Linked DNA regions of Homo sapiens: region 2 is linked to region 1. The links come from fine-mapping of genetic effects on plasma protein levels. Region 1 holds a variant in brackets. A gene starts in the other region. All regions are shown on their reverse strands. Region 1 holds the start of LOC124902213 (a long non-coding RNA gene). Region 2 holds the start of F13B (coagulation factor XIII B chain).

Evidence for each region. PIP is the posterior inclusion probability: the model's chance that the variant is causal. Protein levels are from antibody-based Olink assays in UK Biobank. Linkage for the fine-mapping came from a reference panel and not from the study's own genotypes, which makes the PIPs less certain.
Region 2: F13B starts here. The variant in region 1 is fine-mapped to the plasma level of the F13B protein (UK Biobank, PIP 0.98).

Annotation. Positions count from the first base shown.
Region 1 is chr9:93,141,960-93,150,298 of GRCh38, reverse strand. LOC124902212 (a long non-coding RNA gene) reads right to left here. Exons shown (of 3, transcript XR_007061665.1): 2 at 2,236-2,616; 3 at 1,930-1,966. It overlaps LOC124902213 (a long non-coding RNA gene), which reads right to left and starts at 1,898. Exons shown (of 2, transcript XR_007061667.1): 1 at 1,869-1,898; 2 at 1,023-1,433. RefSeq lists a silencer at 3,558-3,852 and enhancers at 5,875-6,014, 5,602-6,474, 6,475-7,347. The variant T/AT (reference allele first, on the strand shown) is at 5,160.
Region 2 is chr1:197,062,389-197,070,727 of GRCh38, reverse strand. It overlaps F13B (coagulation factor XIII B chain), which reads left to right and starts at 3,468. Exons shown (of 12, transcript NM_001994.3): 1 at 3,468-3,568; 2 at 7,671-7,871. The coding sequence starts at 3,505. RefSeq lists an enhancer at 1,161-2,360.

The DNA of each region.
Region 1 (8,339 bases):
AATGCTTGCACATATTCTATCATATGGCGGTACCGTAATTTATCTTTTCTCTGGCATACATCTAAGTTGCCTACAACTTTTCCTTATTACATATAATGCCATGGTGAATTATGCATAAAGCTTTTATCTTATTAAAAAATATCTCCCTGGCTGGGCGCAGTGGCTCACGCCTGTAATCCCAACACTTTGGGAGGCCGAGGCAGGGGGATCACGAGGTCAGGAGATAGAGACCATCCTGGCTAACACAGTGAAACCTCATCTCTACTAAAAATACAAAAAATTAGCCAGGCGTGGTGGCGGGCGCCTGTAGTCCCAGCTACTCAAGAGGCTGAGGCAGGAGAATGGTGTGAACCTGGGAGGCGGAGCTTGCAGCAAGCCGAGATTGCACCACTGCATTCCAGCCTGGGTGACATGCAAGACTCCGTCTCAAAAAAAAAAAAAAAAAAAAAAATATATATATATATATATATATATATATCTCCCTATAATAGATTCCCAGAAGCAAAATTATTTGGGTCAAGGAATATAAATATTTTAAAGGCTGTGGATAAATCTTGCAACTTTATCATCTGGAAAAGTCAAGCCTATTCTTATTCCTACCAGCTGTATATGGAAGTGTTTATCCTGTAGCAATTGTGGAAGTTTGGATATTCTCAGATTTCAAAAAGGGAGTTTTGTTTATTCCACAGGAAGTGAAAAATCATGAATCAGTTTCAATATGCATTTCTGTACTTCTGGGAATTTTTACTTTTCAAATACATAGTAGTCACTTTCATTTCTCTTGATTCACTGTGGCAGAGGCAATACTAAACGTTTATTTAGTTATATTCTGGGGCATACAACTAAACTATGTTTCTTGGCTCCATGCTCCTGGGTGTGATAACACAGCTTTCTCACCACCTGAATGTGAGAAGAAGTGACCTGCTTCTAGGTGAAAATACTCTGCATCCCTGGGACTTGCGTGCCAAGCAGGAGAGCCCTCCTACCCACATCAGGTGTAAGTGAGTATGAAATAAACCTTATTGTATTAGCCATCAAGTGTGGTTTATTTGATACTGTAGCAGAGCCTGGCCTCTTTTGACCAAAATAGTCACCATTTAAGTTATCATTCCTGCTGTGTAATAAATTAACCTAAAACTTAGTGGTTTAAAAAACAAGAATAATTTACTATCACTAGCAATTTCTATGGGCCAAGAATTCAAGAGAGACTCAACAGGATGGTTCTCTGGGTCTCTCATGAGGCTGCAGTCAGGTGTTGGCCAGAGCTGTGGTCTCATCTGAAGGCTTGGCTGGGACAGCAGATCCACTTTCAAGGTGACTAACTCACACATGGGCAAGTTGGTATTGGCTGCTGACTGGGGGCCGAGTTCCTCCCCAAGGGATTGGTTCTCCTCAGGGCTGCTTTGTCCTTATGACATGGTGGCTGGCTTCCCCTAAAATGAGCAGTCCAGAAGGGAAAGTCTGAAGCCACAGTGTGCTTTATGACCCAGCCTTAGACGTCACACACCATCTACCTCTGCTGGAATTTACTGGCCACATGCAGTCTCCCTGATTTACTGGGAAGGGAGACTATGCTGGTTATGAATACGGAAGCAAGGATCATTGGGGGCCATCCTGAGGCTGGCAATTAATTCTTAAATCACTCAAGTATGTGTGCAGAGATTTATATACCAGGAGAGGATGGCCATTATAGTGTTGTTTTCAGAAGAAAAAAAGAAGGATGCCAGGCACAGTGGCTCACACCTGTAATCCCGGCACTTTGGGAGGCCGAGGCAGGTGGATCACCTGAAGTCAGGAGTTCGAGGCCAGCATGGTGAAACCCGTCTCTACTAAAAATACACAAATTAGCTGGGCGTGGTGGTGGGCACCTGTAATCCCAGCTACTCGGGAGGCTGAGGCAGGAGAATCGCTTGAACCCAGGAGGTGGAGGTTGCAGTGAGCCGCGATGGTGCCATTGCACTCCAGCCTGGGTGACAAGAGGGAAAATCCATCTTAGTAAATAACTAAATAAATAAATAAATAAAGGAAAAGATAAATGTCCATCAGGTTGAATAAATCATGATATGACCACAAAATAGAATTGCAAGCAGTCACATGTTGCAGAAGAATTTTTATGACATAAAAAGATGTAGTCATACATATAACTGAGTGGCAAAACAATATGTAGAGTGATTCTGATTGGTAAAGAGTGTCTTTATTTAAAAAAGCATAGGAAAAGTGTGAAAGGGTATATACCTGGGATATTTTGGTCATCAATCAGCAAGTGGCAAGTGTCCACACCCCTCACCTCCCACTGTGGGTGAGGGACCCTTTCCCACAACGTTGGACTTGCTTTGGTCAATGGAAAGTGGAGAGCAGTATTCATGGTCAGTTCTGAGACTATGCCATCAGTTGTCTTGCATGCTCCACTTGCCTCTCTGGCAGCTTCTGACTTTCCATATGGGAGGAACATTTCCTGAGAACCAGGTGGGCCCAGGAGAATGAGAGACACACAGAGCAAGGCCACAGTTGGGACCAAGTCCACCAAGATCAGCCAAATGCCAACCAACCCACAGGTGCAAGAGCAAGACATAAATACTCACCCTTGGCTGCCTCTGAGGTTCACGGTTGCTGTTACTGAGGATACAATATCAAAACATGGACAGTTTTTATTTCTGGGCAACAGAATTATTTTTTTTCTTACCTTTGTTTTCTAAACTTTTTACAATGAACTTACTTTTTAAAATAAGAAAAATGTTATTTGGCTGGGCATGGTGGCTCATGTCTGTAATCCCAGCACTTTGGGAGGCCGAGGCAGGTGGATCACTTGAGGTCAGATGTTCAAGACCAGCCTGGCCAACATGATGAAACCCCATCTCTATTAAAAATACAAAAAGTTAGCTGGGCTTGGAGGCGGGTGCCTGTAATCCCAGCTATTCAGGAGGCTGAGGCAGGAGAATCACTTGAACCCGGGAGGCGGAGGTTGCAGTGAGCTGAGATTGTGCCACTGCACTCCAGCCTGGGCAATAAGAGTGAAACTATCTCTCAAAAAAAAATTATTTAAGCCTACATGTATGTAAAGCAAGCTTTTGGGAAGTTTAAAAAGAAAACCTTGCCCACAAACTCACCTTATGTCTCTGTTCTGCTCCTCACCCAGATGTATGGTAATCTAATGATAATTCCAGTATGCATACTTGGATAGTCCATCTTTTCTCTAAAGATACATTGTAAACACTCTTCCATGTTGGTACACATCCTCCATGACTAACATTTACAGTGTGTAGTGTGTATTAGTCAGTTTTCATGCTGCTATAAAGACATACTGGAGACTGGGCAATTTACAAAAGAAAGAGATTTAACCGACTCACAGTTCCATGTGGCTGGGGAGGCCTCACAATCATGATGGAAGGCGAAAGGCACGTCTCACATGGTGGCAGACATGAGAAGAATGACAGCGAAGAGACAGGGGTTTCCCCATATTAAACCATCAGATCTCATGATCCTTATTCACTACCACGAGAACAGTATGGGGGAAACCGCCCCCATGATTCATTTATCTCCCACTGGGTCCCTCCCACAACACAAGGGAATTATGGGAGCTACAATTCAAGATGAGATTTGGGTGGGGACACAGCCAAACCATATCACAGTGACTGACGGAACATTCCACCAAGTGAATTTCAGAACATAGCATGCTTGTGTTTTTCCCACTGTTGGAAATTTCAGTTGTTTCTGACTTGTCATGCTTAACAATCAGGGGGCAATGGATATCTTCATGCATGTGCTTCTCCACCTTTCTTTGGGTTTCCCAAACATAAAGTCACACACTTGAGACTACATGAGAGGAAATGAATATTTGAATCACTCTTGGCATATATTTTAAAATTTGCCACCCAGAAGAATCAGCCACTGCCCCTCTCCACCAGCTGTATTTACAGGTGCTGGCCTGAGGCAGACAATGCAGATAACCCAGCTGTGTTCCGCAGGAAATGAGCTCTGATTTTATTCTGAGGGACACTGTACCTAGCCTACCTTGTAAATAGTGGTAGCAATGAAATGTAAGAAGAATTAATTGAGTGGGTCATCTGGAAAGCTCCATAAGAGGGGACAACTGGAAATGAGCCCTGCTGTGCTCCCAACATCTGCTTCCTGCTGTGATGGTTGGCTAGCCAGCAGCCCTCATGGACCATGAGGCTACTTTGAGGATGGAATTTATACACTTTGCAAAGCAGAAAAGAAAGATCCCCAGTAACATTATGGGGGCCAAGCATGGTGGCTCACGCCTGTAATCCCAGCACTTTGGGTGGCCAAGGAGGGCAAATCACTTGAGGTCAGGAGTTCGAGACCAGCCTCACCCACAGGGTGAAACCCCGTCTACTAAAAATACAAAAATTAGCCAGGCATGGTAGTGGGCACCTGTAATCCCAGCTACTCAGGAGGCTGAAGCAAGAGAATTGCTTGAACCCAGGAGGCAGAGGTTGCAGTGAGCCGAGATTGCCCCACTGCACTCCAGCCTGGGAGACAGAGCAAGACTCTGTCTCAAAACACAAAAACAGAAACAAAAGAAACAGGCCACACGGCTGGGCATGGTGGCTCACGCCTGTAATCCCAGCACTTTGGGAGGTCGAGGCGGGTGGATCATGAGGTCAGGGGATCGAGACCATTCTGGCTAATACGGTGAAACCCCGTTCTCTACTAAAAAATACAAAAAATTAGCTGGGTGTGGTGGCGGGCACCTGTAGTCCCAGCTACTCAGGAGGCTGAGGCAGGAGAATGGTGTGAACCCGGAAGGCGGAGCTTACAGTGAGCCAAGATCACACCACTGCACTCCAGACTGGGCGACAGAGTGAGACTCCGTCTCAAAAAAAAAAAAAAAAAAAGAAACAGGCCAGGCACGGTGGCTCAGGCCTGTAATCCCAGCACTATGGGAGGCCAAGGTGGCTGGATCACTTGAGGTCAGGAGGTCGAGACCAACCTGGCCAACATGATGGAAACCTGTCTTTACTAAAAATACAAAAAAAAAAAAAATAGCTGGGTGGGGCAGCAGGCACCTGTAATCCCAACTACCTGGGAGGCTGAGAAAGGAGAATCACTTGAACCCGGGGGCAGAGGTTGCAGTGAGCTGAGATTGCACCATTGCACTCCAGCCTGAGTGAAACTCCATCTCAAAAAAAAAAAAA[T/AT]TACGGGGGTACCATGCTGGCCTTAGATTGCCTATATCCAGGCTTTTTTCATGTGAGAGAAAAACACATCCTAATTAGTGAAGCCTTTGAATCTTCAATCTCTGTACTGGCAACGAGACTGCTTTTTACCTCTCCAAAACCTTACTATCATTGGTTTTTAGTATATTACAATGATAGAAATTATTTATAGGTATCAAAAGGGGCTTAATTCTTTTGCAATCTGGATATTTTGAGAGTCATTATAGGCAGAAGAAATAACACAAGCAAAGTTGTACAAGCTGGGAAAGACAGGCATTTTCAGGGACACATCAGTTACTTCCTGGAGTGTCTGCCTGTCTGCTCTCGCCTTACTAAGAGAAAGAAGGTGAAGTCATATTGTGGAGACCCTTGCTGCCAGGTGAGACATGAATTCCATTCCCATCATGGAGAACCATGGAGGCAGGGTGTCACAGTGGAGACAATCTATGTTTCCATCTCCCTCCCTCTCTCTCTCTCATTTCTTCCATCCCTCCTTCTGTCTGTCTCCATCTGTCTCCCTTCTTCCTTCTCCCTGCAAGTCTTCCCCTTTCCCCTCCCTGCCTCTCTCCCTCCAGTTGCAGCAGGAGCGTTCTCAGGGAATGCCCTGTCTGGGACAGAACAACTCACAGGGGAACATGGACGGGTCGCACAGCTTGGAGAAGGAGTTGGAAAGCCGACACCCTCCACAGCAGGCGAGCCCAGCCCTGCTGGCACTCTGTGAAAGGCTATTTCTGTGTTTCCTGTGTTCAGACCAAGACATGCCATCCCTGCCTGATAAATGCCCCTTTGTGCTGGAAGGGTTCTCATAAACCCATGAGATGCTCTCAGCCAGACCCAACTGCACGTGGCCCTGAGCTCTGCCCGGCAACAGTACTGCTGGGGCCGGGACCCCTGCCAGCCTAGACGCCATCAGAGCCAGAGACAGGAAATGTGGCATTCTGGGGAGCCGCCCCGGAGGCTATGTGGCTTCTACACAGCACAGGCAACATCCACAGGTGGGACAGGCAGCCATGCCACAGTGAGGCCCCAGGTCACATGCAGAGGCCTGGCTCATGGCCAGACCTGCCTTAAATGTGGAGCTGGGAACTGAGGGGTCTGGCGACTCTGCTCCTTGGGATCCACTTCCTGAGCAGCAGTGGCCACAGGACGAGTCCCTGTGGTTGTTTGGCCCCACCCACCCCATGTCCGGCCATGAGGACACACCTCACATCCTACCTGATCTGTGTGTGTGTGTGTGTCTGTGTGTGTGTGTGTGTGTGTGTAGACAGAGTCTCGCTCTGTCGCCCAGGCTGGAGTGCAGTGGTGCGATCTCAGCTCACTGCAACCTCTGCCTCCTGGGTTCAAGCTATTCTCCTGCCTCAGCCTCCTGAATACCTGGGATTATAGGCGCCTGCCACCACGCCCAGCTAATTTTTGTATTTTTAGTAGAGACGGGGTTTCACCATGTTGGTCAGCTGGTCTTGAACTCCTGACCTTAGGTGATCCACTCTCCTTGACCTCCCAAAGTGCTGGGATTATAGGCGTGAGCCACCGCGCCCAGCCCCTACCTGCTCTTGACAGGAACCAGGGGGTCCCAGGGGCGGTCCCCTGCACAGTGCCACTTCCCTGGCAGCACCCCCACCCTCAGAACTCCACGTCCACCTTCCTTGGACTGGCATATTTCAACTTCCAAATTTTTCCTATAGGCTTCAGTTAAAAGGAAGGAATAGAACCAGAGGTTCGCCACCAAAGCAAGACTCCAGGGAAATTTGGAAGGAGAAGCAGCTGTGGAAACCAGCGTTTTCAGACCGTGAGGCACAGGTGGCCTTCAGATGAGGCCGACAGTGGCCGGGGCAAAGAGCAGAGGACAGAGAGCGAAGGGCATGCCCCCCTGCTTGCCGTCTGCAGTCGCATTCTCTGCAAATAAGGTCGTCTGGGACCCCTGCTTTTCAAGGTTATTGTCCCAGATGATGTATCTTTTTTTTTTTTTCTTTGAGACAGGGTCTCACTCTGTCACCCAGGCTGGAGTGCAGTGGCAAAATTTCCACCCGCTGCAACCTCCAACCCCTGGTTCAGGCAATTCTCGTGCCTCAGCCTCCCGAGTAGCTGGGATTACAGGCATGCACCACCACGCTAGCTAATTTTTGTATTTTCAGTAGACATGGGGTGTTGTCATGTTGGCCAGGCTGGTCTCGAACTCCTGACCTCAAGTGATCCGCCTGCCTTGGCCTCCCAAAGTGCTGGGATTACAGGTGTGAGCCACCACACCTGGCCCCTGATGACATATCCTTGACCAAAATGAAGGCGACACTCGCTTACCTGCTGGCCTGAATGTGCTCACCAACCCTCTACTTGACCCAGTGAGGACATCCCCAGCCTGAACACAATGATCCCAACCAGCATGAAAACATGTGGGCTGACTCTCTCGGGCTTGGGACGGAGTCCTCTTTAGGCCTCGTCCCTTCACGGATTTATGCAAGGAAAATAACTAAAAATGGTATGTTTATAGTATGTTTGTTTCCAACATGCCACACTGATGACTCCTGACTTTTCCACAGTGGAGGGACACCTGCCTCATGCTGAGGGACAGTGGGAGGGCTTGTGGGAGGCACTGGGCCCCAGACTTACAGGGGGCAGCTTCTCAGAAGCAGGCTCTCCCCTACCTGTGCCCCTGCGTCAATCCTCAGCTTGGCCCACATCCCTGCCTCAGAACTTGCAGGGACAGCTGTGCCCGGTGGCTTGGAGTAGGGTTCCTGGGCCAGCAGCATCAGCCCCTCTGGGCTGGTCCCAGTGAGCTGTGTTCTCACAGAGTTCTGATGCATGTCCAAGTTTGAAAACCGCAGGCCCAACCAGAAACAGGACCAGACAACTCCCTCTAGGCCGGGAGTGATGGTGTTCTACTGGTGTGAGCTCATGCTCAGAAGTCGCAGGCTGACCCCTGTCCCCTCCCTGCCACAGGACAGGGAGGGAGTGGGGACAGGAGGCTTCCACAGCCTGAGCCTGAAGCCCCCACCCCACTGCAGGCTCTTGTGACATTCACAGAGGTCTCCCCCAAGGAAGCTACGGGTAGCCTTGGGCCTGAGGTGGGCTGAGATTCCCTAGGCAGGACAGGAAAGGGCTTTGGCTTGGCTGCGAGGTAGCTCCTGGCACCCAGCCACAGTAGGCAGAGGGTGCAGTGTGGAC
Region 2 (8,339 bases), not on the chromosome of region 1:
GACCTCATGATCCACCTCCCTCGGCCTCCCAAAGTGCTGGGATTACAGGCATGAGCCACTGTGCCCGGCCGTAATGATATTTTTATGATGATTTCCCAAGTGTTCTTTGAGCTTCTTGTGTATGGATGGCTAGATTTCTAGCAAGGCCAGGGAAGTTTTTTTTTTTCAATTATTTCCCTAAATATGTTTTCCAAATTTTCAGATTTTTCTTCTTCCTCAGGAACACCAATTATTCTTAGGTTTAGTCATTTAACATAATCCCAAACTTCTTGGAGGCTTTATTCACTTAAATTTTTTTCTTTGTCTTTTTTGGATTGGATTACTTCGAAAACCTTGTCTTCAAGCTCTGAAGTTCTTTCTTCTGCTTGTTTTATTATATTGCTGAGACTTTCCAGTACATTTTGCTTTTCTCTAAGTGTGTTCTTTATTTCTTGAAGTTGTGACTGTTTTTTATTTATGCTATCTATTTCACTGAAGATTTCTCCGCTCATATCTTGTGTCATTTTTTTGATATCCTTAAGTTGGATTTCACCTCTCTCTGGTGCCTCCTTGATTAGCTTAATAATCAAACTTCTGAATTCTTTTTCTGGCAGTTCAGGAATTTCTTCTTGGTTTGGATCCATTGCTGATGAGCTAGTGTGATTTTTGGGTGGTGTTAAAGAACCTTGTTTTGTCATAATACCAAAATTGTTTTTCTAGTTCCTTCTCTTTTGGGTAGGCTATGTCAGAGGGGAGATCTGGGGCTCAAGGCTGCTGTTCAGATTCTTTTGTCCCACGGGGTGCTCCCTTGATGTAGTATTCTCCCCCTTTTCCTAGGGATGTGACTTCCTGAGAGCCAAACTGTAGTGATTATTATTACTTTTCTGGATCTAGCCACCAGAAGGGCTACCAGGCTCTGGGCTGGTACTGGGGGTTGTCTGCATAGAGTCCTGTGATGTAAACTGTCTTCAGTTCTCTCAGTCATGGATACCAGCACCTGTTCCAGTAGAGGTGGCAGGGGAGTGAAAGGAACTCTGTGAGGGTCCTTAGTTGTAGTTGTTTGATGCACTAGTTTGGTGCTGGTTGGCCTCCTGCTGAGAGGTGAAGCCAGCTGGACTTCCTGGGTCGAATGGGGACTTGGAGAACTTTTCTGTCTAGCTAAAGGATTGTAAACACACCAATCAGCGCTCTGTGTCTAGCTAAAGGTTTGTAAATGCACCAATCAGCACTTTGTAAAAACAGACCAACCAGCACTCTGTAAAATGTGCCAATCAGCGGGATGTGGGCGGAGCCAAATAAGGGAATAAAAGCTGGCCACCCGAGCCAGCCGCAGCAACCTGGTCTGGTCCCCTTCCAGGCTGTGGAAACTTTGTTCTTTCGCTCTTTGCAATAAATCTTGCTGCTGCTCTCTTTTTGGGTCTGCACTACCTTTATGAGCTGTAACACTCACCGCGAAGGTCTGTGGCTTCACTCCTGAAGTCAGCAAGACCTCGAACCCACCAGGAGGAAGAAACAACTCCGGACGCACCATCTTTTAGAGCTGTAACACTCACTGTGAAGGTCTGCGGCTTCACTCCTGAAGTCAGCAAGACCAGGAACCCACCAGAAGGAAGAAACTCTGGACACATCTGAACATCAGAGGAACAAACTCCGGACACACCATCTTTAAAAACTGTAATGCTCACCGCAAGCGTCCGCAGCTTCATTCTTGAAGTCAGCAAGACCAAGAACCCATTGGAAGGAACCAATTCCAGACACACTGCCATGAGGTAGTGCTTTCATGAGAGCATCAGCTGTGGTATATAGGGGAGGATCAGGTGGTGGGTGGGACACTAGAACTTCCAAGAGAATATGACCTTTGTCTTCAGCTACCAGGGTGGGTAGGGAAGGACCATCAGGTGGGGGCAGGGTTAGGCATGTCTGAGCTCAGAGTCTTCTTGGGTGGGGCTTGTTGTGGCTCTGTGGGGAATGGGGGTGTGATTCCCAGGTTAATGGAGTTACCTTCCCAGGAGGATTATGGCTGCCTCTTCTGTGTCATGCAGGTTGTCAGGGAAGTGGGGGAAAGCTGGCAGTTACAGACCTCACCCAGCTCTCACACAACCCAACAAGCAAATCTCACTTCTACTGTGTTCCCCCAAAAAGCACCGAATTTGTTTCCAGGCAGTAGGGGAGCAGGATTGAGAACTTGCCCCAGGCTACTAGCCTCCCAGCTGAGAATGCAAGCCAGACTTTTGTGCCTCCCTACCTGTTAAGTCTGCACACCAGATTCACGCCCTTTCCTGAGTTCTGGACAGGAAAGTTTGTGTTCGGTTGGAATTGTTACTAAGTTCAGCTGGAGGTTTCCTTCTCCCTGTGGTCTTTTCCCAGTTCCTCCGGCAGCCCCTGTGAGACAAGTCAGAAATGGCTTCTCTGGGGACCCACAGAGACGATGGGGCTTTACCCTTTGCTTCCTCTACCCCTGTATTTCGCTCAGCTCTCTAAATTGTCTGAGCTCCAGGTAAGGTCAAATCCTTCTCCTGTGATCTAGACCTTCAGGTTCCCCAAGGGTGTGTGTTCAGGGGTGGACAATACCCCTTTCACACTTTTCACAGTTTGGGCATTCACAGTATGTGGGCTATTTTCTGGGTCATGCAGGAGCAATATACTTTCTTCAGAGGGTCTGTGGATTATCTTGGCTTTCCTGTTATATCCTTGCAGCAGTTCTTGGAGCAAAAGTTCACAATGCGAGTCTCCACATCCTGCTCTGTCCATCCAAGTGGGAGCTGCAAGTTAGTCCTGCCTCCTATCCACCATTTTTTCCTATTTTGTATTTTAAATTAAAACTCATTAGAATGTAAACTCCATGAGGGCAATAATTTTAATCCAGTTTTTTCACTGCTAAATACCTCAAAACTGTTACATGTGCTGCCATTATCATGGACGTTCTAAACATTTCTCATGAATGAATGTTGATATAGCACAGTGCTGATCTCACCACCTGCCACAAAGTAAAAACTCTCTAAATGTCAAACACTACTATTATAAGTAATACTATTCTATCATTGAGACAACTATGGTTCTGTATCTCTTTAAGGAGTGCAGTCTAGGCAACAACATATTTCAACATCAGGTATCTGTTATCTCATGTTCCTAAGTTCATCTTTTTACCTGATCAATATTAGTAAAGATCTATGGCCTCAAGTGAACTTTACTCTATGAATTTACAATTGGGAACTTAGGTTGAAAATTTACCTAGTATTATTTATTCTGCTGCTATAATTTATTATTTATTCTGCTGCTATTGTTGCCCTAATCAGTTATCATGCTCTTACTGGACTCTGACATGGTAAGTAATGTCAATTAATATAGTTGTGTTATTTTAACATTATTTCAAAATATTTTAAGTGAAATATAAGACTCGTTACAAAAGGACTTAGACAGAGGTTATAAATTATTAACTTTTTCCTCAAGAGAAGTATTGTGTACTTAATGACAAGTTCCTAGTGCTTAGAATTGTTAAAATCTTTGTGAAGCACACCACTGAAGATGAGGTTGAAAAACCTGACTTTTATCATCATATTGATAATCTCAGGAGAACTCTATGCAGAAGGTAAAATTAATTCTTAATATTCTTTATTCTCTAAAACATACAAATGGAGATTCTAATATTTATACAACTCAAGTTTTAATATACTCTTCTATTTTCATTATCAATTTTATAACATATTTTATAAATATAACTTTTTATAATATTTAGACCTTTTCCTTTGAGCAAAATTAGTAAAGTGTTCTTACAGTAGCATAAGTCAGAAAAGCAAAACAAAACAAAAACCCTTGTATCTCTAGGGGGCATAGGAGACCAGGATCTAAATACTTCGAAAAGGTTTTCAGGTTAACAATATGTCCATTTCGAAGTCACATGTTAACTTTAATTCTAAATTTATGCTAGAATCCATTCCTAATACTGACAAAACTTGTACAATTTTAATTCTGTTCATAAGGTGAGAGTTTAATGTGGGAAATTTGAAAAGGAAATAGCCATAAATATTTTTTACTTTTGAGACTTTGATTTTTATCACAATGAATTATTCATTTGTTGGAGACATTAAGTAGTGATTAGTAGGTGAACCATATAATTGCTTGTACAAACAGGGACACTTAGAGAGTAAAAGAGGGGCTCTATTAATAACTGTTTGGACAACACATGTAAATCAGGACTTTCCAAACAAACCAATACCTATGGACTCCCTATTAGAAAGCTTTATAGTCAGATTGCCCAATGTGTAAGATTAGTGTGCGAGTGGAAGCTAGGCAGTGTACATGGGTATGTTGTTCAGGAACATTATCAATATTATCAGGCCATAGGATGAAGAATCCAGGGAGGACACTTAGCATTAGCAAGAGTGAACATACAAAGAAGGAAGCTACAGCAATACAGCTTTTCTAAAATAAACATTTTTGGGAATTTGTTGAAATTAAATACATAAGTTTTAACTGTGTTTTAGTTGAATAGTTAACTATAAATTTTCTACCAAAACATCTATAATTAAAATTATAAAAGTGAAAGACACAGAATTAATCTTATTTTATACTTTTAATTCTATAATAGGATGATTTTTGCATGAATTTCTTTTGATTTTATTTTTCTGTCTAAATAGGGAAATACCAGCAGATATAATTGTCTGTTATCTATACCATAAAGACATTGCAATATTCTAGTTAATTTTCTAATTATTATAAGGTTATAATGCTATTTTACACAACAAAAAAAAAAGTAAGCTGCTTGAAGACCAAGACAATGATTTTATTTTTGCATGCTTCTCTCAACTCCCATTGTGCACTTCAGGGACAAGAATTGAATTAATTGTGTTTCTCATTTCATGGTATGCAAGTATTATTGGCCTATGAAAGGTCTCACTCTTGCTTTACTTACACATTTTATCCCCTTATTCCTAATCTTGAAGTCCATTTCCCCTGGGACCTACTACAATGTTTTAACATGTTACTCTAGCTCTCTCAACCACAAATAGCTCTGGAATGAATATTGTAATATAACCAACTTATCTTTCTGTAAGAATGTCATCAGTCTGTATTCACTCACAGATAGCATTATTGAGTCTATTCTTGTACTTGATTTCTGTAATGAGAGATTACTTTTGCAGAATGGCAGTTTTGAAGTATATCATCTCTGAGAGAGGATGTAAATTGTTGCTCCTCATCATTCTCACCAACACCTCATATTGTCCATTTTTGTACTGGTTGCTATATGGTTATTCATAAAGTGATATCCCATTTTTATTTATTTACCATTCTCTGATCAGTAGTAAGTGTGTCCATCGCTTCATGTACTTTTTTTAATATGTTCAGACATCTGTGATTTCCTGGTTTATATGTGATTAGTATATTCCTCACATTTCTCATTAATTTTTTGTCAGGAATTCATATTCTCCAAGGCATTCCAGCTACCTTAACAAATAATGTGCCTATCCTGGTGGTGGAGGGAGATGTCCCAGGACAGAGAGTCTTTAAAGCCACAACCTAGGATTGTTGTGCAGAGAATACTTTGCTGCCCCTCCCTGACAAGCAACTGTGCCCCTCAGGGAAATTTCTTGTGTATTCACCATTGCACTGCTATTTTGGAAGACTCTTTTTATTGTAAATTCCTTTGGTGCTTGGGTGTGAAAAAATGGTGAGAATAATTCTCAAGGAATGGGGACTATCCAGCCCATGTTTTTCTGTCTGCTCCATCAGATAGTGGAAGTTTTGTTGCTCATCATTCCACATCCATTTCCTTCAAACCTAGGCTAGCACTACTAGTATTTTATGTCTCATAGTAGCATTAAGGTATACAGTGATCAACCAAGGCATTGAAGCCGTAGTAATCACACTGGATCTAGGCCTTCTTCCATCCATGACTGCCCATGTTTCTTCCCACCACAGCTCCTAGGATTGTTCGAGCATTTCTTTCTTTTAAGTGTTTTTATGACTTTAAGATCTTCAACATAAAGATATATTTTTAAAATATATGTTTTATTTGGAGTATAACATATCCAGAAAAATGCAAAAATCACAGGATACACTTATATAGTTTTTACAAAATTTTACACCATCCAGATCAAGATATAGAACAGTGATAGTACCCCAGAAATATGATCCTTCTAAGGCACTAAACCCCAAAGGTAACCATTCTGACTTCTATTATCATGGATTAGTTTGTTTTCTTTTAAAAAGTTATGCAAATGTATACATTAATTCATATGTGATTGGCTTCTTTCACTCAATATTATGTTTATGAGATTCACCATTTGTTCATTTCTGTTGTTGGATAATATTCCATTGTATGCATAGTCTAAAATGTGTTTATCTTTTCTATTATTTATGGGCATTTAGATTGTTCCCAGTTTGGGACTATATGAATACTGCCACTATAAGCATTTTTTTCCATGTCTTTTGGTATACAAATATGTGCTTTTTTTATTGGGTAATATGGTTTGTACATGTTTTACCCCAATATATATTGCAAAGGTGTTCTCTCATAGAGTTTGGACTGATTTATACTTTCAGTTGTAGAAATATGCGAGTTCCAGTTTCTTCACTTCTTCACAATCATTGAGATAGCTTGTCTTTTTCATTTCAGCAGTTCTATTGGATATGCAGTAGTATCTCATGGTGGTTTAAATTTTCATTTCCCTGATGACTAGTAATGCTAAGTACCAGGTCTCTAACCATTTAAATATCCTATTTTGCCAAGTTCTTGCCAAGTATTGCTTTGTTTTACTTGGTTGTCTGTTTTTTCTTTTAATGCTATTTATTTCAAAATTTTTTATGAGTTAGCATATGTTAAGGAGAAACTTTACCTATTCCTGAACTGTACTGTCCAATACAGTGGCCATCAGCCACATATAGCTATTGGAGACAGTACTTAAAATGTCACTAGTTCAAGATCAGATATTCTGTAAGTATAAATATGTAGTGGATTTTAAAGAGTTAGAAAAAAAAAGAATGTAAAATATTTTCAATATATTGGGTTAAATAAAAACCTATTATTAAAACTAACTTCAATTGTTCCTTAGTATTTTTATGAATGTGACTATTAGAAATTTTTAAATTACATAAGTGACTTACAATACATATCTATTAGGAAGTGCAGGCAGGGTGGAGTGGTTCAAGTCTTGTAATCCTAGTGCTTTGGGAGGCCAAAGCAGAAGGATCCTTTGAGTCCAGGAGTTTGAGACCAGCGTGAGCAACAGAGTGAGACCCCTCATCTCTACAAAAAATAAAACAAAAATTAGCCAGATGTGGTGGCATGTGCCTGCAGTCCTAGCTACAGGAGAGGAGGCTTGCTTAAGCCCAGGAGCTCCTGGTGGCAGTGAGCTATATTTCAGCACTGCACTGAAGCTTGGATAACTGAGGAAGACTCTGTGTCTAGGAAGAAAAAAAAAAGTACTGTTCTACGAAGTTATGCAAAGCTTCCCTGAAAAAGTGGTCTGCTAAATTTTATCATGACTGTTGGATGTTTAAAGTCATTTGCAGATCAATTATGATAAAAGGACTGCTTGAGTTGTCACAAAAGTACCTTAAAAATTTAAGTAAGAAAAATAAGTACTAGTTGAAGTGTCTCTAAAAACTTTTAGTTTGTATTGTCACCTGATTACAAATTTATGTTTTTAGATTTGTTTTTCCATTTTCAGCTTGACATTTACTCATTTCAGAGAAACCCTGTGGTTTTCCTCATGTGGAAAATGGAAGAATTGCCCAATATTACTATACTTTTAAAAGCTTTTACTTTCCAATGAGCATAGACAAAAAATTGTCATTTTTCTGCTTGGCTGGTTATACCACTGAAAGTGGAAGACAAGAAGAGCAAACCACGTGTACAACAGAAGGCTGGTCTCCAGAGCCAAGGTGCTTCAGTAAGTCAGCTGGATATGTCACTCAATGTTTCAATACTCAAAGAAATTTGTATATAAAAATAGGGGTCCAATAAAAATGGAAAGCGGTTAAACCTTTTAGTAGATAAGAACAAAATCACTAGCAATCTGTCTTTCTACAAAATGAAGGCATAATTTGAAATCCAGTAAATAATGCTTTTACATTAAAATGTTATTTTCTGTATCTGTTTTTAATAATACTCTGTTGAAGGGAATAGGGTAATAACTGAAATTATCATATTGCAAGGCAAAGAGAGGTAATTTACTTTAAGTAACAAGAAACTTATTTTGATAATTAAGCATAAGATGCCAGAAAAATGCTTGAAACTCTGGCCTCTGGAAGGGCAAGATTGCTACTCTAATGCTTTATCATTTGTAAGACTCATCTCTCTTCATGTGCCAACTTCTCTCATGATACCCATTGAAAAATGTGTTTTTCAATTTTGAATT